Linked DNA regions of Homo sapiens: regions 1, 2 and 3 are each linked to region 4. The links come from fine-mapping of genetic effects on gene expression. A gene starts in region 4. Each other region holds a variant in brackets. All regions are shown on one strand. Distances are between the middles of the regions. Region 1 overlaps TMPRSS12 (transmembrane serine protease 12). Region 2 holds the start of HIGD1C (HIG1 hypoxia inducible domain family member 1C). Region 3 overlaps RACGAP1 (Rac GTPase activating protein 1). Region 4 holds the start of TMT1A (thiol methyltransferase 1A).

What was found. PIP is the estimated chance that this variant, and not a neighbour inherited with it, causes the effect.
Region 1: its variant is the best candidate, but not a certain one, in a credible set for the expression of TMT1A in whole blood (INTERVAL, PIP 0.75).
Region 2: its variant is the best candidate, but not a certain one, in a credible set for the expression of TMT1A in whole blood (TOPMed, PIP 0.60).
Region 3: its variant is the best candidate, but not a certain one, in a credible set for the expression of TMT1A in whole blood (INTERVAL, PIP 0.53).

What each region holds. Positions count from the first base shown.
Region 1 is chr12:50,868,895-50,874,049 of GRCh38, reverse strand. All of the region lies in intron 3 of TMPRSS12 (transmembrane serine protease 12), which reads right to left. Among named protein-coding and RNA genes, the nearest start is that of TMPRSS12, 29 kb to the right of the region's middle. The variant C/T (reference allele first, on the strand shown) is at 2,674.
Region 2 is chr12:50,952,412-50,957,566 of GRCh38, reverse strand. It overlaps HIGD1C (HIG1 hypoxia inducible domain family member 1C), which reads right to left and starts at 5,023. Exons shown (of 5, transcript NM_001109619.4): 1 at 4,852-5,023; 2 at 4,308-4,362; 3 at 3,475-3,576. The coding sequence starts at 3,568. It also overlaps a transcript of SLC11A2 not described here. RefSeq lists an enhancer at 4,441-4,941. The variant C/G (reference allele first, on the strand shown) is at 3,082.
Region 3 is chr12:50,005,530-50,010,684 of GRCh38, reverse strand. It overlaps RACGAP1 (Rac GTPase activating protein 1), which reads left to right. Exons shown (of 17, transcript NM_001319999.2): 3 at 4,049-4,251. Among named protein-coding and RNA genes, the nearest start is that of RACGAP1, 17 kb to the left of the region's middle. The variant A/G (reference allele first, on the strand shown) is at 3,044.
Region 4 is chr12:50,922,728-50,927,882 of GRCh38, reverse strand. It overlaps TMT1A (thiol methyltransferase 1A), which reads right to left and starts at 2,868. Exons shown (of 2, transcript NM_014033.4): 1 at 2,347-2,868. The coding sequence starts at 2,844. RefSeq lists enhancers at 1,988-2,531, 3,545-3,754.

The DNA of each region.
Region 1 (5,155 bases), 54 kb after region 4:
TTCAGATATTCATTTCTTCTTGAGCCAGTTATAATTTTTTTCCTTTTAGGAATTTATTGCTATTACTAAAATTTGACCATTTATGTGTAACAAATATAATGTTAATCAGTATTTAAATACTTCTCCTGAATAATACAGGGACCTGAAACCAGTTTGACTCTGATCACCCCTCCTGAAATACCTGCCTTTCCTCCACAACTTAGACATTATTTTTATGATTTTAAGGTTTCTGTCTTGCTACTACTGACATTTTGGGCCTAACAATTCTTTGTGTGGGAGATGGGAGAACTATACTATGCATTGAAGGATGTTGAGCAGATGCCAGTAGCAAACTTATCCGCTTGCCCAGTTTTAACATCCAAAAATTTTCTCCAGATATGTTACCAAATGTTCCCTGGGGGCAAAATTATGCCCAAGTGAGAACAACTGTTGTGTACGGAGAATGTTTATTTACATTTACCTATATATTATCCATGTCTTTTTTTGTTCCTTCTTACGTCTTATACTTCCCTTTTAGCATCATTTACATTCTTTCTGATATTTCTTTTACTTCCTTGGTGAAAGACTGTTGGTAGTAAATTCACTTTTTGTTCACAGATATTATTGAATGATAGTTTTGCTGGATACACAATTGTAGGCTCATAGTTACTTTCTCTCAGCATTTTGAAGATATTTCATTGTCTTTTGGCTTTCTTTTTTATTTTATTTATTTTTCCATAGGTTATTGGAGTACAGGTGGTGTTTGGTTACAAGAGTAAATTCTTTACTGGTGATTTGTGAGATTTTGGTGCAACCATCACCTGAGAAGTATACACTGCACCCTATTTGTAGACTTTTATCCCTCGCCCCCCTCCCACCCTTTCCCCTGAGTCCCCCAAGTCCATTGCATCATTCATATGCCTTTGCATCCTCATAGTTTAGCTCCCACATATCAGCGAGAATATATGATGTTTGGTTTTCCATTCCTGAGTTACTTCACTTAGAATAATAGTCTCCAATCTCATCCAGGTCGCTGCGAATGCCGTTAATTCATTCTTTTTTATGGCTGAGTAGTATTCCATCATATATATACGTCATATATATGTACATATATATACGTCATATATATGTACATATATACATCATATATGTACATATATAGTCATATATATGTACATATATACGTCATATATATGTACATATATAGTCATATATATGTACATATATAGACGTCATATATATGTACATATATACGTCATATATATGTACATATATACGTCATATATATGTACATATATACGTCATATATATGTACATATATAGACGTATATATATGTACATATATACGTCATATATATGTACACATATACGTCATATATATGTGCATATACGTCATATATATGTACATATACGTCATATATGTACATATACGTCATATATATGTACATATATACGTCATATATATGTACATATACGTCATATATATGTACATATATATGGCATATATATATATTTTTTTCACAGTTCCTTTTTTTTTTTTTTTTTTTTTTTGAGACGGAGTCTCGCTCTGTCGCCCAGGCCAGACTGCGGACTGCAGTGGCGCAATCTCGGCTCACTGCAAGCTCCGCTTCCCGGGTTCACGCCATTCTCCTGCCTCAGCCTCCCGAGTAGCTGGGACTACAGGCGCCCGCCACCGCGCCCGGCTAATTTTTTGTATTTTTAGTAGAGACGGGGTTTCACCTTGTTAGCCAGGATGGTCTCGATCTCCTGACCTCATGATCCACCCGCCTCGGCCTCCCAAAGTGCTGGGATTACAGGCGTGAGCCACCGCGCCCGGCCTTCACAGTTTCTTTAACCACTAGTTGATTGATGGGCATTTGGGTTGGTTCCACGATTCTGCAATTGCGAATTGTGCTGCTATAAACACGCGTGTGCAAGTTTCTTTTTTGAATAATGACTTCTTTTCTTCTGGGTAGATACCCAGTAGTGGGATTGCTGGATCAAATGGCAGTTCTACTTTCAGTTCTTTAAGGAATCTCCACACTGTTTTCCATAGTGGCTGTACTAGTTTACATTCCCACCAGCAGTGTAGAAGCATTCCCTGATCACTACATCCATGCCAACATCTACTGTTTTTTTTTTTAATTTTTTGATTATGACCACTCTTGAAGGAGTAAGGTGGTATTGCATTGTGGTTTTGATTTGCATTTCCCTGATCATTAGTGATGTTGAGCATTTTTTCATATGTTTGTTGGCCATTTACATATTTTCTTTTGAGAATTGCCTATTCATGTCTTTAACCTATTTTTTGATGGGATTTTTTTTGCTTGCTGATTTGTCTAAGTTTGTTGCAGATTCTGGATATTAGTCCTTTGTCAAATGTATAGATTGTGAAGATTTTCTCTCACTCTGTGGGTTGTCTGTTTACTCTGCTGACTGTTCCTTTTGCCATGCAAAATCTCTTTAATTAAGTCCCAGCTATTTATCTTTGTTTGTATTGCGTTTGCTTTTGGCTTCTTGGTCATGAAATCCTTGCCTAAGCCAATATCTAGAAGGGTTTTTCCAGTTATCTTCTAGAATTTTTATACTTTCAGGTCTTAGATTTAAGTCCCTAATCCATCTTGAGTTGATTTTTGTACAAAGTGAGCGACAAGAATCCAGTTTCATTCTCCTACATGTGGCTTGCCAATTATC[C/T]CAGCCCCATTTGTTGAAAGGGGTGTCCTTTCCCCATTTTACGTTTTTGTTTGCTTTGTTGAAGATCAGTTGGCTGCAAGTATTTGGGTTTATTTCTGGGTTCTCTATTCTGTTCCATTGGTCTATGTGCCTATTTTTATACCAGTACCATGCTGTTTGGGTGACAATGGGCTTATAGTATAGTTTGAAATCAGGTTGTTTGATGCCTCTAGATTTGTTCTTTTTGCTTAATCTTGCTTTGGCTTTGTGGGCTCTTTTTTGGTTCCATATGAATTTTAGAATTCTTTTTTATAATTCTTTGAAGAATGATGGTGGTATTTTGATGGGGATTGCATCGAATTTATAGATTGCTTTTGACAGTATGGTCATTTTCACAATATTGACTCTACCCATCCATGAGCATGGGATGTGTTTCCATTTGTTTGTGTCATCTATGATTTCTTTCAGCAGTGTTTTGTAGTTTTCCCTGTAGAGGTCTTTTGCCTCCTTTGTTAGGTATATTCCTAAGTATTTTTTTTTTTTTTTGCAACTATCATGAAAAGGGTTGAGTTCTTGATTTGATTCTCTGCTGTTAGTATATAGGAGAGCTACTGATTTGTGTACATTAATCTTGTATCTGGAAACTTTGCTGAATTCTTTTATCAGTTCTAGGAGCTTTCTGGAGGAGTCTTTAGGGTTTTCAAGGAAAATAATCATATTGTCAGCAAACAGTGACACTTTGACTTCCTCTTTACTGATTTGGATGCCCTTTATTTTTTTCTCTTGTCTGATTCCTCTGGCTAGGACTTCCAGTACTATGTTGAAGAGGAGAGGTGACAGTGGGCATCCTTGTCTTGTTCCAGTTCTCAGAGGGAATGCTTTCAACTTTTCCCCATTCAGTATTATGTTGGCTGTGGGTTTGTCATAGATGGCTTTTATTACATTGAGGTATATCCCTTGTATGTTGATTTTGCTGAGAGTTTTAATCATAAAACGATGCTGGATTTTGCCGAATGCCTCTTCTGCATCTATTGAGATGATCATGTGATTTTTTTTTTTAATTCTGTGTATGTAGTGTTTCACATTTATTGACTTGTGTATGTTAAACCATCCCTGGATCCCTGATATGAAACCCACTTGATCATGGTGGATTATCATGGTTTTTGTTTTGTTTTGTTTTGTTTTTTGTTGTTGTTGTTGTTTTGAGATGGAATCTCCCTCTGTTGCCCAGGCTGGAGTGCAGTGGCACAATCTTGGCTCACTGCAACATCTGCCTCCCGGGTTCAAGCAATTCTCCTGCCTTAGCCCCCTGAGTAGCTGGGAGTCTCCCTCTGTCGCCCAGGCTGGAGTGCAGTGGCACGATCTCAGCTCACTGCAACCTCCGCCTCCTGGGTTCAAGCAGTTCTCCTGCCTCAGCCTCCTAAGCAGCTGGGATTACAGGCGCCTGCAACCATGCCCAGCTAATTTTTCTAATTTTAGTAGGGACAGGGTTTCACCAAGTTGGCCAGGCTGGTCTCAAACTCCTGACCTCAGGTGATCTGCCCACCTTGGCCTTCCAAAGTGCTGGGATTACAGGTGTGAGCCACTGTGCCCAGCTGGTGGATTATCTTTTTGATATGTTGTTGGATTTTGTTAACTAGTATTTTGTTATGGGTTTTAGCACCTATGTTCATCAGGAATAGTGGTCTGTAGTTTTCTTTTTTGGTTATGTCCTTTCCTGGTTTTGGTATTAGGGTGATGATGGCTTCATAGAAAGAATTAGGGAGGAATCTGTCTTTCTCTATCTTGTGGAATATTGTCAAAAGGATTGGTAGCAATTTTTCTTTGAATGTCTGGTAGAATTCTGCCATGAATCCATCTGATCCTGGATTTTTATGGTTGGTAATTTTTAAATTACCATTTCAATCTCGCTACTTTTTATTGGTCTGTTCAGGGTATCTATTTCTTCCTGATTTAAGCTAGGAGGGTTGTATTTTTCCAGGAATTTATCCACTCCTTCTAGATTTTCTAGTTTATGTGCATAAAGGTGTTCATAGTAGCACTGAATGATCTTTTGTATTTCTGTAGTGTCAGTTGTAATATCTCCTGTTACGTTTCTTATTGAGGTTATTTGGATTTTCTTTCTTCGTTTCTTGGTTAATCCTGCTAATGGCCTATCAATTTTATTTATCTTTTCAAAGAACCAGCTTTTTGTTTCACTTATCTTTTGTATTTTTTTTTTGTTTCAATTTCATTTAGTTCTGCTCTGATCTTCGTTGTTTCCTTTCTTCTGCTGGGTTTGGGTTTGTTTTTTTTTCTTGTTTCTCTAGTTCCTTGAAGTATAACCTTAGAATGTCAGTTTGTGTCCTTTCAATCTTTTTGATGTAGGCATTTAGGGTTATGAACTTTCCTCTTAGCACCACCTTTGCTGTATTTCAGAGGTTTTGATAGGTTGCCTCATTATTGTCATTCAGTTTGAAGAACTTTTTAATTTCCATCTTGATGTTGTTTTTGACCCAATGAT
Region 2 (5,155 bases), 30 kb before region 4:
TTGTTAGTATATAGAAATGCAAATTTTAATCTAAATGTAAGGATCGATTAAAAGAAGAAATGCAGGCTGGGTGGGCATGGTGGCTCATTCCTGTAATCCCAGCACTTTGGGAGGCTGAGACTGATGGATCACTTGAGGTCAGGAGTTTGAGACCAGCCTGGTCAACATGGTAAAACCCTGTCTCTACTAAAAATACAAAAATTAGCCAGGTGTGGTGGCGCATGCTTACTCAGGAAGCTGAAGCACGAGAATCGCTTGAGCCCAGGAGGTGGAGGTTGTAGTGAGCCAGGATTGTGCTATTGCGCTCCAGCCTGGGCGACAGAGGGAAACTCTGTCTTTAAAAAAAAAAAGAAAAAAAAGCAAGTAATTTTTATGTGGATAGCATGTTTGGAATAACTATGTTGGCATATGTGTGTCTATGGGTGGGTAAGGATATATTTATTCTTTCATGATCCATTTAATAAATGGAAATAAGAATCAGTAAATCATTACATTTACATGTATATTTTATACACTGATCCACAATAAATAAAAATGACTAATGTGCTACAGACATAAAAACAGCAAAAAAAAAAATAACAAAATGATGATGGTAGACATATGAGGAAACAGGTAAAACCCTGAAAGCTCTGTAAGTTTGGCCAAGTCCTTCTAGAAAGAACTCTGGAAATATATAACAAATGATATTAAACTGAACATGCTTCCTGCTCTGGAAATTCTACTTCTGGGAACATACTCCAAGGAAATAACCAAAAGAAAAATCAAGAAAATGACACAAAGATGTTCAGGGCTACACTATGTTTGAGGAAAACCTAAATAACCCAAACAGAAGAAAAACTGCCATTGCTATAAAAATAAATAAGAATAGGGAGTATTAATACACAGAAATGCACGTATGAGCTGTTAAGTGAAACAAGCAAAGCCAAATAATCTGTCAACACATACTTTAAATAGATATAATGCATGCAGAGACCTTAACAGTGATTGTAAGATGATTTGAACAGTGTAAATATATTTATAATGATGGAAGTTGCTTAAGATAACCAACAAAAAATGTTTTGTAAGTTACCTGCATAGGACCCTCCATCCTGTAGCAGGAAAATACATAGTAGATATTGTTAAAATGACAATAGCTAAACAAATTATTCAATGATATATATCCAATTTTTTTTTCTAAGATGGAGTCTCGCTCTGTTGCCCAGGCTGGAGTGCAGTGGCGCAATCTTGGCTCACTGCAACCTCCACTTCCTGAGTTCAAGTGATTCTCCCGCCTCAGCCTCCTGAGGAGCTGGGACTACAGGCGCCTGCCACCACACCCAGCTAATTTTTGTATTTTTAGTAGAGACAGGGTTTCACCACATTAGCCAGGCTGGTCTCAAACTCCTGATTTCAAGTGATCCACCCACCTTGGCCTGCCAAAGTGTTGGGATTACAGGCATGAGCCACTGTGCCCAGCCTACCAAATTTTATCATTATTTATTTTTTAGCAAAAACTTATCTCTATTCCCTTAATCAAATGAAAGTTCTGTTCTTACTTAAATTGGTTTTGTTTCTTTTGGAGATTAAAGTCAGAACCTTTACTGTTTTCCATATAGTGTCTCTAGTTTGTTTATAATTGAATTTAGCTGGAAACACTTTTATCTTTCCACTTTAATCATCCTAAATGTCTCTGGAAAAATAATTTAATATACAACAGGCACAGTGGTGCGTATGTCTCTTTGTCTCTGTTTATTAATTAATTTCTGTTCATTATAGTGATCTGTTCAAGTAGCATTGAGTTTTCGAATTTTTTTTAACTAAAAATGCTAAGGAAGATAAATCACTATTAAATTATTTGCTTCCATTTCTTATGGGTGCTATTATAAGTCTTAAAACTTCTAAACAGAATATTACTGTAAAGTAAAATTTGATTCTTTCTTGATATGTGAATAATGACACTTAGGAAGTTGCTAGAGTCAGAGTAACACTTAACGGGAACATCTGACATACCTATTTAGAAGTTTTTATGGAATTAATATTTTTGCAAACTTATGTCAGTCTGATTTAAGTAAACTATTTTAATAGTTTCCAGACAAAATGAACACAAGGAAACAGGCATGGCTGCAGTATACATCCATGGAGAAGAAAGAGAAAGCTCAGACTTCAAAACATAATATTGGTGCTTAGGTTTTGTGGGGTTTTTTAAAGTCCACATACACATAATACTTGTTGAAAATGTAAACATACTAAATATGTGTGGGGAAAGGATAAAGAGGCTAAGGGTCCAGATTATTAGGTGATCTAATTATAGTATCTCTCTTTTTTATTTTTTGAGATGGAGTCTCGCTCTGCACCCAACCTCTACCTCCCGGGTTCAAGTGATTCTGGTGCCTCAGCCTCCTGAGTAGCTGGGATTACAGGTGTGTGCCACAATGCCCAGCCAACTTTTTGTATTTTTAGTAGAGATGGGGTTTCACCCTATTGGCCAGGCTGGTCTTGAATTCCTGACCTCAAGTGATCCACCTGCCTCGGCCTCTCAAAGTGCTGGGATTACAGGAGTGAGCCACTGTGCCCGGCCTAATTATAGTATCACTTCTTTAGTCCAGAATTTATTTTGCCATCAAACTCAACACCTGGAGCACACCAAGAAGCCAGCACAGAGGGCCACTGAGCAGCCAAAATGACCACTCCAAAGTTCATGCTCACAAGTGTTCAGATAGATCCAGGCTTTTACTCAGAGCTTTCCTCTGAATTGACCCACAGTTCTTTCAAGCTTGGTTATCTAGCTTCTGGTGCTACAGAGCATTAAAAACATTAGATGCAGAAGTTTTTGGTTTTTTGTTTATTTGTTTGTTTGTTTTTGAGACAGGGTCTCACTATGTCACCCAGGCTGAAGTGCAGTGGTGTGATCTTGGCTCACCGCAACCTGCACCTCCTGAGCTCAAGCAATCCTCCCACCTCGGCCTCCCAAAGCGCTGGGATTACAGGCATGAGCCACCGTGCCCGGCCTAGAAGCAGAAGTTTTTAATGTGCCCAATAGTAAGATAGAAACAGAAAAATCTATAAACAGAAGATGTAAGAACTTAAAGTTTAGATTACTTA[C/G]AAGACAAAGAGACATATGCATCTCAATAGTCCCTAATAGGCTTTAAATATAATAAACTGATGCTGCTGTTGATGGTCCTGAGTTATGACTGAAATGTTAATATTCATTCAATCTATTCCATTTGACTGGCTAGGAACTAATAATTTTAGGTAGACTTCTAATGAAATGGATAAAATAGAATAAAATTTGATGCCTCAAATAACAGCTAACATTTACTGGGGGCTTACCATGTATTAGGAACTATTCTGAAAGTTCAACACATGCTTAGAGGAGGTTAGCTTCAATTATCTGAAAAAATTCAATTATAAGAAACATTTCAATCCGCAAAGGCACTGGGTAAGGCATCATTGTGTTATTACAGTTTTCTGCATCCAGTCAAGGCTTGTACTTACCTATAGGGACAAAGGGGGAGTCTCTAGATTTCCTGATTAGTCGGGATAATTGGCCTTCATCCTCATCTGCTGACCACTGGTTATCTGAAGACATTTTTTTCTCTAGTAACAATAGGATATAAATGTGGTTGCCGTGAATCATTAAAAATAATTTGTTTTTCCTCTCCCATCATACTCTTGATTATGTGTTTTTTTGTTTTCATTTGTTTGATAAGCCTATCTGCTCAACTGAAACAATTGTCTTTCCTTCACACTTTTCACTACCGAATTTTTTCATTTTGCAGGGGAAGGGGATAAGAAAAAAATACATAGAGGAAATGATAATCAGATTTCATGAATACAGAGTAAAAACACAGATCATAATGCTGTTATTCAGTCTCCTTTCCACTGCTCAGCATTTGAGATCACTGGGAACCTCAGGACTTCTTCCACAAGCACTGTATTTGAAGAACACATTTTCTTTTTAAAGTATCATTTTAAAGAAGTATGGCAGTGCCAACATAGGCAAAAATACTTCCAGATTTACAGGTATTGGGAGAATGATCACTTCAACTCTGCAGAATGTGCAGGGCATTATAAAGTCATTCAGATATTTACCAAGCACCTACTGTGTGCCAGTTGCTATGCTAGACAATGGATTCCTTGTCTAGCCTGGCTTGTCTACATAGGATGAATGAAGAAACTTGCAAAAGCAACTATAATCACAACAGATTTAGCAGCGCCTGAGTCTGTTCCCTGTGCAGCTTATTGTGTTCACCCCAGAATTCAAATACAGCGGCTTCATCCTATGAATGAGACTTCATCAGAAAACTTAAGCGTAAGAAGCACAATACCTGTGGCACACCCCGCCACCTGCTGTCTGTCTCCTGTTGTTCCTTCAGCAAGAGGCTGTAGATCAGAACAGGTGTTTGTTGTAAGGCCAGGACACGATGTGCAATTTCCAACTAATTGATAATGGGAAAGCCCAGAAACACGCCCCAGGGGACTGGGGGAGTGGTCGGCTGGTATTGGCCAAGATTTCCAGCACCCTGCTAGAAACTCACCAGTAGCAGCCTGGGCCACAAACTAGGCTTTTGAAGCCAACATTAAGAAAAACATGAAGGCTTTGGAAGAAGATGCATTTGCTTAAGTCTGCCTTCACAAGGGAGCTCCTGACTTCCCTCTGTGACTGTTGAGTCTTAGTACCTGACTCCTGGGCCCAAAATTGAGGGGAAAGAGGGCACAGGGTCACAACACTGGGCTTGGAGGGGAAGGGGAGAAGATAGCCATCAGAGGCCAGGATTCTTGCCATCCTTCGGAAACACGCCCTAGCCAGAGGAGGTGCGCTCCCTGCAGTTGGAATCTCCGGCTGAGGCGATGAGAGCCCGCCGGGCTCACCTGGCGGTAAGGCCATCGCAGGTGCGCCTCCTGCAAAGCCTCGAGCTGCACACGCGCCCAGGGGAAAGACGTGACGTTGCTGCACCTGTGGCTAGTCCCTGCGCCTGTGTGTGAGACCTGAGTGGGGCTGTGGAGACCCGAGAGGCTGTGGCTCTTGAGGTGGGTCGGTGGTGGACGTGGCCTTTGCTTCTGTTCTGACCTTGTAGCCTTGGGGCCCCTTGAGACCTTGGAGAACACCTTGCTCACCGCCTCCCTCCGACTGCAGCCATGTGGACCTAGAGATGAGGGCAGAGGATCAGGTAGC
Region 3 (5,155 bases), 920 kb after region 4:
CTGGGATTACAAGCGTGAGCCACGGTGTCTGGCCTGTATTGTTTTTTAAAAAGCTAAGTCCGGGCCGGGCAAAGTGGCTCACACCTGTAATCCCAGCATTTTGGGAGGCCAAGGCAGGTGGATCACTTGGTCAGGAGTTCAAGACCAGTCTGACCAACATGGTGAAACCCCGTCTCTACTAAAAATACAAAAAGTTAGCCGGGCGTGGTAGCATTCACCTGTAATCCCAGTTACTTGGGAGGCTGAGGAATGAGAATTGCTTGAACCCAGGAGGTGGAGGTTGTGGTCAGCCAAGATCATGTCATTGCACTACAGCCTGGGCAACAGAGTGAGACTCCATCTCTTAAAAAAGAAAAAAAAAAAAAAGTTAAAAAAAGAGAGCTAAGTCCAAGTTACAGGAAGATCAGAATGAAAGTTAATATTTTAAAAAAGATGACTTTAATAGCATATTTTGTTGTCTTGTTTTCTCCAGTCCACACAGTTTTTATGTTCTATTTTTAATTTTTCATAAGCTGCCTGAGCTTTTTAAAAAAAATCATTGGTGTATAAATTAGGAATAAGTATAATTTAACATTTATCAGGTGCCTGTTGTGTGCCAGTGACATACTAGGTTTGTGCTACACTATGCATAGTAGGAAATAATGAAGTATATATGACATATTGCCTGTCTTCAAGAAGATTATGGTATTTTAGTTTCAGAGACAGGATTTTTTTCTCATGAAACAGAAGATAGTACAAGTATCAAAATATATGCTTTTGGGTAATCTAGAAAAATTTAGTGTGTAGCAAACTGATTAGGAAAAGATTCACAGACCAGATGGGACTTGGTAAATGGGTATGTAATAGGTAGGGCATTCCATTTGGAGTGCATAGCTTGGTCACAAGTGAGAAGGCAGGAATGCCTCTGTTCTGGGGGCAGGGACAGACTGGTTTAGCTAGAGGGGTATTTATTGCATAGTGGTGGGAGGTAAGTTTGATTAAACTGGTAAGGTGGTCTTGGATGCTGGTAAATTTAATTTGAACAGCGGCTTTTCATTCATTCATTTGTTCAACAGATTATTTCAAGTGTCTACTGTGTGCTAGGCAGGTTACAACACTGGAGATAAAAGAGCAAAGGAGACATAGGGTCTTTGTCTTTAAGAAGCTTAGAGAGGGTAGTAGGGAAGGCAAATGGAAGAGCCTGTTCAAAGGCCTCCGGGAGTAAATGGAAAAAAAAAATCAGGATTTCTGGACCCACTTAAATTTGCTTGCTGAGCTATGAACCAAATCCTGATTTTTAAATTTTAAATAAATCAAAGATCACCCTCAATTTGTTTTGAGGAAATTTCCCTTCTCTTTCCTCCTTTTTGATAGGGGCACTTCATAGTTTAGGGTGTACGTAACTTTTTAAAGGAGGTACTGTAATTTGAATTTTATAAATCTTTTTTTTTTTTTTTTTTTTTGAGACAGCATCTCACTCTGTTGCCCAGGCTGGAGTGCAGTGGCACGATCTCAGCTCACTGCGACTTCTGCCTCCTCGAGTAGCTGGGATTACAGGCGCACACCACCACACCCAGCTAATTTTTGTGTTAGTAGAGACAGGGTTTCACCATGTTGGCCAGGCTGGCCTTGAACTACTGACCTCAAGTGATCTGCCTGCCTTAGCCTCCCCAAATGCTGGGATTACAGGCATGAGCCACCGTGCCCGGCCTGAATTTTATAAAGCTTTTAATGTGCACTTCATGGCAGGCTGGTACCAAGCTGAATTGTGATTCACCAACTGACCAAAACAGTGCCATGATTATTGGTCTTCAACATCAAAATTGTTTCTGATCTATGGCCCAAAATGCCTTCTGACCCAATCCCAGCAAACTTTGCTCATAGCAGAATTGTACATAAAAATAGTATCTTTCGGCCGGGCATGGTGGCTTATGCCTATAATCCTAGCACTTTGGGAGGCTGAGGCAGGTCAATCACTTGAGGTCAGGAGTTTGAGACCAGCCTAGCCAACGTGGTGAAACCCCATCTCTAGTTAAAATACAAAAATTAGCCAGGTGTGATGGCACACGCCTGTAGTCCCAGTTACTCAGGAAGCTGAGGCAGGAGAGTTGCTTGAACCTGGGAGGCGGAGGTTGCGGTGAGCCAAGATTGTGCTACTGCACTCCAGTCTGGGTGACAGAGGAAGACTGTCTCAAAAGTGAAAAGTAGGCTGGGCACAGTGGCTAACACCTGTAATCCTAGCACTTTTGGAGGCCAAGGCAGGTGAATCACCTGAGGTTAGGAGTTTGAGACCAGCCTGGCCAACATGGTGAAACCCCGTCTCTACTACAAATACAAAAATTAACTGGGCATGGTGACACACACCTGTAATCCCAGCTACTCAGGAGGCTGAGGCAGGAGAATTGCTTGAACCTGGGAGGCGGAGATTGCAGTGAGCCAAGATTGCGCCATTGCACTTCTGCCTGGGCAACAAGAGTGAAACTCTGTCTCAAAAAAAAAAAAAGTAATATCTTTTTTTTTTTTTTTTTTTTTTTTTCACATTTCTCACCTGCACACACAAAAAGTAATATATTAATCAGGTATGTAAATGTTCTGCTTTGGGTCTGACTTAAACTAAGCTGAAGCAGTAATTTAATAAAAGGAGTATCCTAAAGAACAAACAAACCAGCAAAATTAGGTCAGATGAAAATCTTTTTATTCTCAAAATTGTTTTTCAGTTCGGTAAATATTTTGAGTGTGTATGCATACGGTATTTAGTTTGCAAACATATATGTTTTTTTCTTTAAGCTAAAAAAAAAAACCCACAAAAAAGTAGTATGTTCCAGACTAACCCAGCATATTATTTCTTAAAACTATTTGAATTGTAATATTTTTTTAATTGTTGATATCCGCATTGTTTAAGATAACTAGGTCATAATAACCTATTTTGCTGAAATTTGTGGTTTGTAAAAACTAAAGTTTCCTTATTACTTGGTTTTTCTGGAACAAATTGGTATCCTGATTTGTAAGTTTGATATTTGGTCAAATGATTAAAATTGTTTAAAAAGGACTATGTATTGTTTCT[A/G]TGCTTTTAGGTTAAATTCATAGGGGAAAAGTGCCCTTACTACCTAAGAATCTGCTAGCTGTGTGTGAATTTGGCCTAGTTTCAGTTTTAACTGGGTTAGTTTGACCAGCAGCAGATGTACACCTTGAGACCTTCTTCCTTGATGTTGGTGGAGAGTGATCCTTAGAGATAGACGGAGGTTAACTAGAAAATTGTAAGGCACTTTTGCAAATACATTGCAGAACAGCTTTGCCAATAGCAGGAGATAAGAATGAATGCCAACAGGGTTATCTTCTTCCTTTGAGATGCTGCCTTGGAAGTGATGTTCTCTTTGCAGACATTTGAAGAGACTTCACATTCTGCTATCAGGGATGTTCCAAAAGCTAGTTTGATCTTCTCTTCCTGTTTTTTTTTTTTTCAACTGGAATGTTTACATACCCTTCAGGGCAGTGTTAAACAGCAAAAGCAAATTGGCTTTTTACTTTCAAATCAATATTTGTATAATTATATAGCCAAATGGAATTGTAGGTCTAGACATCTGTAATATTAATCTACATCTACTGGAGCATATTACAGCAGTTACATTTGAATTTGCTGTTTAACATCTCTCTGGTGCAGCAATGCGTGACTGTAAAGGAAACTGTTTTTGTTTTATAGCTGTAACTGTCCTGGTGCATGACAGCTGCCCCAAAGGTATCCCCCTTTGATTGCCTTCTGTTCAGGAGCTTTCAGTGTTAGTGTTACATCTGGAGCCAGGTGACTAATGAGTTACATATTCCATAGCAGATGCCACTGGCTAAGCCAAAAGTAAGTGGCCTATTGAATAGGAATTGCTACCCACAAAGTTCTCATCAGAGTGACAAACATATCCAGGATCTGCTCCTAGTTATTTTCAGCTGGATTTGCCCATAGTTCAGCTGGTTCCTTAATTATGAATTTCAAATAAAGCTAACCGTAGGACTCATTTATTAGAGCAGTTATACTCTGTTTGGTGCTTGAATTATTAAAGATTCCCCCTTTCCTCAGAATTTATCCAGTTGGCGAAGGACTTTGAGGATTTCCGTAAAAAGTGGCAGAGGACTGACCATGAGCTGGGGAAATACAAGGATCTTTTGATGAAAGCAGAGACTGAGCGAAGTGCTCTGGATGTTAAGCTGAAGCATGCACGTAATCAGGTGGATGTAGAGATCAAACGGAGACAGAGAGCTGAGGCTGACTGCGAAAAGCTGGTGTGTATTGTTTTCCGTGCTAGAACAGTGATGATGCAGGAGGGGGAAGGCATTGTCTGACAGTTTCCACTTGCCAAATATACCTAGTTTCTTCTTCCACATTAAAGAACTGAAAGTGACCTGTTCTTTAACAGCTTGCCCATGATTAGAGCTGAAATTGCAGACTAGGAATCTTGTTCTTCATAATTTGAAATTTAAATGTTTTTGTCACTTAGACTTGAAACTTACTTAACAGACAGATTTCAAATGAGAACTTAAAGAATTAGAGGAAAAGGGAGGGAGGGAGATCCTAACGTACTTGATCTGTCACAAGTTATTGGCCATCCTTCATTGTTTATTTTAAGTGCTACCCGGAATATCCATCCTTACATGAGTAGCTGGTACTTTGTCATACATACAGGCAAGACAACTGTGACTCTTCTTTTCATCACCCCTCTCTAATTCAGGGTAAAAGGCTAGATGTATTCAACCAGTTGAGCAATGTGACTGACACAGAACACTATCATTTTGATGTGCCAGGATGGGTCATAATGCAAAGGAAAGCCTTTACTGGGAGGGACTAATCCATCTTGGTATACAGTGTTAGATGCCTCAGTAAACTCAAATTGTCTGGTTCCAGTGCATTATAGCTTTGTATCCATTTTAATGCATTTTGCTCCACTACTTTGAGAGGTGGGTGGCTGCTTTGATCCGTAGAAGCCAATATTTGTCCTGATAAAATGACACTAAAGTGTTTTTGCTATGTGAAATCTATTTTGGGACTCTCATTTTGCATTATTCTCCTCTTGGATTAGCAGGTTAATCCAAAAGTCTTGTAGCAGAAACTTCGCTGTTCTAGATGTAGTTCATTTTACCAGTCAGAAATCAGAGACACAATCTGGGTTTGATGTGAATTAATATGCTA
Region 4 (5,155 bases):
ACTGTACACCAGCCTGGGCGACAGAGCAAGACTCTGTTTCAAAAAAAAGGAATATTTGCATTTGCATTAAAGAGAGCCATGTCTACTAGCTGTGTAACTTTGGGCAAATTCCTTAATCTCTCTGAGTCTGTTTCTTTGTCCTAACATGAAGATATGTACTTTAGAGGACTGTTGACAGGGTTAAATGAAAATGTAATAAAGTTCCCTTGTTATATCCAGCAGAGAGTGGGTGCTTGGCAGGAGCTAAGGAAGACTATCACGAATGTGATAACTTTAAGAGTTCAATTGATTTTTGGCACTGGAAAACTGAGATAATAATTACCTGCCTTGCAGCGGTGTTGGGAGATTAGTAACACTGTAAGCAAAACATCTACTAATGTGCCAGTTGGTGCCCAGTCTTAGCATATAAGAACCCAGCATTTGGGTATAAGAATCAGTCCTTTTTTATTTACTACTCTGATATTGAGCCAAGACAGGATTGTATGATTTTCCCTAAACCCTATCTCCAAGTTCTTTTCTTCCTGAGGAACTTCCTCTATTAGAAAATAAAACTGATGGTTGGGCATGGTGGCTCACACCTGTAATCCCAACACTTTGAGAGGCCAAAGTGGGCAGACCACTTGAGCCCAGGAGTTTGAGACCAGCCTGGGCAACATGGCGAAACCTCATCTCTACAAAAATACAAAAACTAGCTGGGTGTGGTGGTGCATGCCTGTAGTCCCAGCTGCTGGGAGGGTGGGGAGGCTGAGACGGAAAGATTGCTTGAGTCCAGCAGGTCAAGGCTGCAGTGAGCTGTGATCATGCCACTGCACTCCAGCCTGGGTGACAGAGGGAAACCCTGTCTCAACAAAAAATGAAAACTGGGGATTACAAAACATGCCTTTCCCCCAGAAGAGTAAATTCAAATGTTAAGATATCCATATCTTCAACTTTGTTCAGAATATAAAACGATTTTAAACTAGCTAAAAATAATAAGGGTAATATGTGAAAACTACATACAGGTATAAAGAATTACAGACTTTACGGAAAGGTTTAAAATGAAAAGTAATTCTTTCCCTGAATCCAATCCCATTCCCCAAAGGCAACCACTGTTAATAGTTACTTGTCTGTCATTCCCATTAACTTATACACATATATGTATCTCCTCTCCCTGCCTCACACAATGGGCATGTGGTGGGCCTACGCTCTACCTAACATTCTGTGGCTTGATTGCTTTTTGTTTTCATTAAACATTATCCCTTGGGGATTTTTAAGTATCAGCACAGATAACTCTTCTTGTTCTTTCTGACAGCTGCACAGTGTTCCTTTATACAATATGACAACTCACTTACATAGCATCCTATTGATAGACATTTCAGTTATTTCCAGTTTGTGCAATTACAAATTCTACTTAATATTCTTGTGTATGGACAAGTTTTTGCATGTGGATAAAAGAGTATGTGTGGTTTAAATTTTGATATTATCAGATACCACCCAAAGAGGGTACCTCTTCTAATGTGTATGGTGGTGTCCAGTCCCCTAAACCCACCCCAACCCTATACTGACCTTAAAAGAAGTCCCTAACAGTATAATAGGTAAAATTAGTATCTCCTTTAATTAACTCTTTAAGTTTGAGCACTTTTGTCCTATAATTGGTTTACATTTCTGTTCCTGTTATTTGCCCATTTTCCCTTTTGTTTTTCTTATTGAAAAATATTGATCTTATTGACATGTAATGTCTTTTAACATGAGGGAAGTTAACCCTTTGTCTATCATCCCTGGCAAATATTTTTTCCAAGCTTGTTTTGTAGTTTAACTTTGTTTTGGGGAGTTTTTTTTTCTTATTCTTTTTTTTCTTTCTTTCTTTTTTTTTTTTTTTTTTTTTTTGAGATGGAGTTTCACTCTGTTGCCTAGGCTGGAGTGCTGTGGTGCAATCTTGGCTCACTTTAACCTCTGCCCCACCAGGTTCAAGCGATTCTCCTGCCTACAGGCACCTGCCACCATGCCTGGCTAATTTTTGTATTTTTAATAGAGATGGGGTTTCACCATATTGGTCAGTCTGGTCTCGAACTCCTGACCTCAAGCGATCTGCCTGCCTTGGCCTCCCAAAATGCTGGGATTACAGACGTGAACCACTGTGCCCGGCCAGGAGGTTTTTTCTTTATAGCAGTTTTAAGTTTTTATATTCAGATTTATCAATCTTTCTCTTTATAGCTTCTCTCCCACGCTAAAATTTTAAAAAATTCTACAGTATTTTCTAGTAGTTTACTTTTTATGTTAAAATGTTTCAGCCACCTGAAATTGACAGGCCTGCCCTCTATGATAATAGCTGCTACTAACTAGTCCTCCTCACACCCTTTCACTCACCGGTCTCAGCACTCTGCACACCTCGCGGAGAATCCGCTCCTGGTTCTTCACAGAGCACAGCACCAGGGTGCAGACCACCACATCCACAGAGCCATCAGCCACCTGGTGCATGTTCTCCCCGGCAGCTACCACAAAGCGCTCAAACTGCAGGTGTCGGTTCTCTGCAATGCTCTTGATCAAAAACTTCTCAAAGTTGGGGTTGGGGTCAATACAGGTCACCCTGCACCCAGGTGGGTAGAACTTGAAGTTGGCCCCCGTGCCACAGCCCACTTCCAGCAGGGAGAGTTTCCCGGAGGGGCCCGCAAACTCCTGCAGGTTACTGAAGAGCTCCCGCTTCTTGCTTGCCATCTGTTCGTTGTATATCACAGTGAACCTCACCAAGAAGTAGGGGAACCATTTTTTGCATATCCAGCTCCACAAGCCCAGAAAGTTCAGCAGGTACAAGGGAAATGTCAGGATGTAAATGGCCAGTCTCAGGATAAAGATGGTAAGCTCCATTGCTCAGAAGGGAAAAAAACAGATCAACAGTTAGAGACCCGACTCCTTTAATTGCAGGAGAGAGGCTTCTGGCCACACTCCAGAGCCAATCAGCTGCAGAGGAGAAAAAGAACTGGCTGTGCTGGAAAGTCAAATCATGGGCAAGAGGCCAATTTTGCCTAATAGATGTTTGGCAGCAGTCGATTCAGCTTAGTTTTCATAAGGCAAAATGAGAAGGTTCCCAGCTTTTCCTCAGAAGGAAAGTGGATTATAATCCTTTATTCCTAATCGATTCCTGTTTCCCCTTCTCTGGGTTTGGAGACAGCTGCTAGCTTCCTGCTAGAGTTTTATAAGCGCAGTGTACTTACACCCCACCGGGCTCTCCAGTGACCTCTAAAAGAAAACAGAATTCGTGGGTGGAGCCTGGTCAAACCACACCAGAAGAGTGCTGCCAAGGCCCCTTTATCATAACACATCCCCCTTACTTCCCCCGCCCAAACCCTGTTTTTTTTTTTTTTTTTTTTTTTTTTAAAAAAAAAAAAAGGAAGTGAAAGGACATGCATGCCCGGCCACAGTCAGCAAGAATTCTCTCTTTTACATTCTGGGCAGAGGCTCTCAGTGTTCACAACTCAACGTTTTTGTAAACCAAAAATAATGTTCTAAGGCCTCTAACCATCTGAATGGACTTTCTCCTTGGCCAGGGCGCTTTTAAAATTTAACTTGAGAGATTGTTTCAGGCCATGAGGGGAAGTGGGGGTCAGATATGCCTCATTATACCTCAAGCCGGCATTCACATCAACGCAGACCTTAAGTACATTTACAATCTATTCTCTCTGAAGCCTGCTACTTGGAGGCTTCATCTGCATAATAAAACTTCAGTCTCCACAACTCTTATTGCAACCCAGACATTTCCTTTCTATTGATCCCAGGTCTTTAGATAAACTCAACCAATTGTCAACCAGAAAAATTTAAAACGTACCTATAACCTGGAAGCTCCCTGCCTCGCGTCGGGTTGTCCTGCCTTTCTGGACTGAACCAATGTATTTCTTAAATGTATTTGATTGAAGCCTCATGTCTCCCTAAAATGTAGAAAACCAAGCTGTACCCTGACCACCTTGGGCACATGTTCTCAGGATTTCCCGAGGGCTGTGTCACAGGACATGGTCACTCATATTTGGCTCAGAATAAATCTCTTTAAATATTTTACAGAATTTGACTCTTTTTGTTGATATTTTAAAATCACTGTTTTGGGCTGTACTTCCCCTTTTAAAACAATTTTTGGCTCAAGGAAGTCAGTTTGTGGGCTGCCCTTCTTTTAAAGGACAAGCCTCAGTCTTCAAAATGTGCCTAACTACTCGATTACTCAGCTAATTTGGATAAAAATATTTCCCAGAATATTCACATTTGGGAGCCAAAGGGATTCAGAAAATAGTTTCAAGCATCCATCCGCTTTTTACAAGAAAGCCCGAATCTGGGCACAGTGGTGGGTGCCCATGGTCTCAGCTACTGAGGAGCTAAGACAGAAGCATACCTTGAGCCCAGGAATTCAAATCCTGTCTGGGCAACATAGTGAGACTCTATCTCTTTAAAAAAAAAAAAAAAAAAAAGAAAGAAGAAAAAGAAAAAGGCCTGAGCTTTAGGGTGGCTAGGGAACACAGAAAAAAATAATTTTTTAAAAATAGTAAACATTTACTTTAAAAAACTGGGTGATGGATACAGGGAGTGTTCTGTTGTTTCATGATTTGTTATAACCTGCATGTATTTTATAAATATTGTATCTATTCCATTTTTAACAGATTTTTTTAGGTGGAATTGACATATAATAAACTTTACATATTTAATGTGTACAGTTTGATAAGTTTTGACATATCTATATACCTGTGAACCCATCACTTCAGCCAAGATAAATGAACATATCCATCACCCCTAAAAGATTACTCTTGCTCCATTGTGATCCTCCCTTCTGCATTCCTAATCCTGAGGCAATCAGTGGCCTGTTTTCTGTCTGTGGCCTGTTTCCTTTCCTTTTTTTTTTTTTTAAATGAGCAGCAGCAAGATTTATTGTGAAGAGCGAAAGAACAAAGCTTCCACAGTGTGGAAGGGGACCCGAGCGGGTTGCCCTTCTGTCTGTTTTTGAAAACAGGATCCAGGGAAGAAACTGAGCAACTCCACAGGACTGGAAGATTCTAAAGCCCTCAGCAAAGGAGAATGAAAGTAATTTTGTAGAGAATTTAATTATTCTTTTTAAAATGGAGAGGCCTATGGCCACAAAGTTTGCTTGTAAGAAAAGTACCAAAGTAACCCCAGACATAATCATTAAGAAAATTAAAAT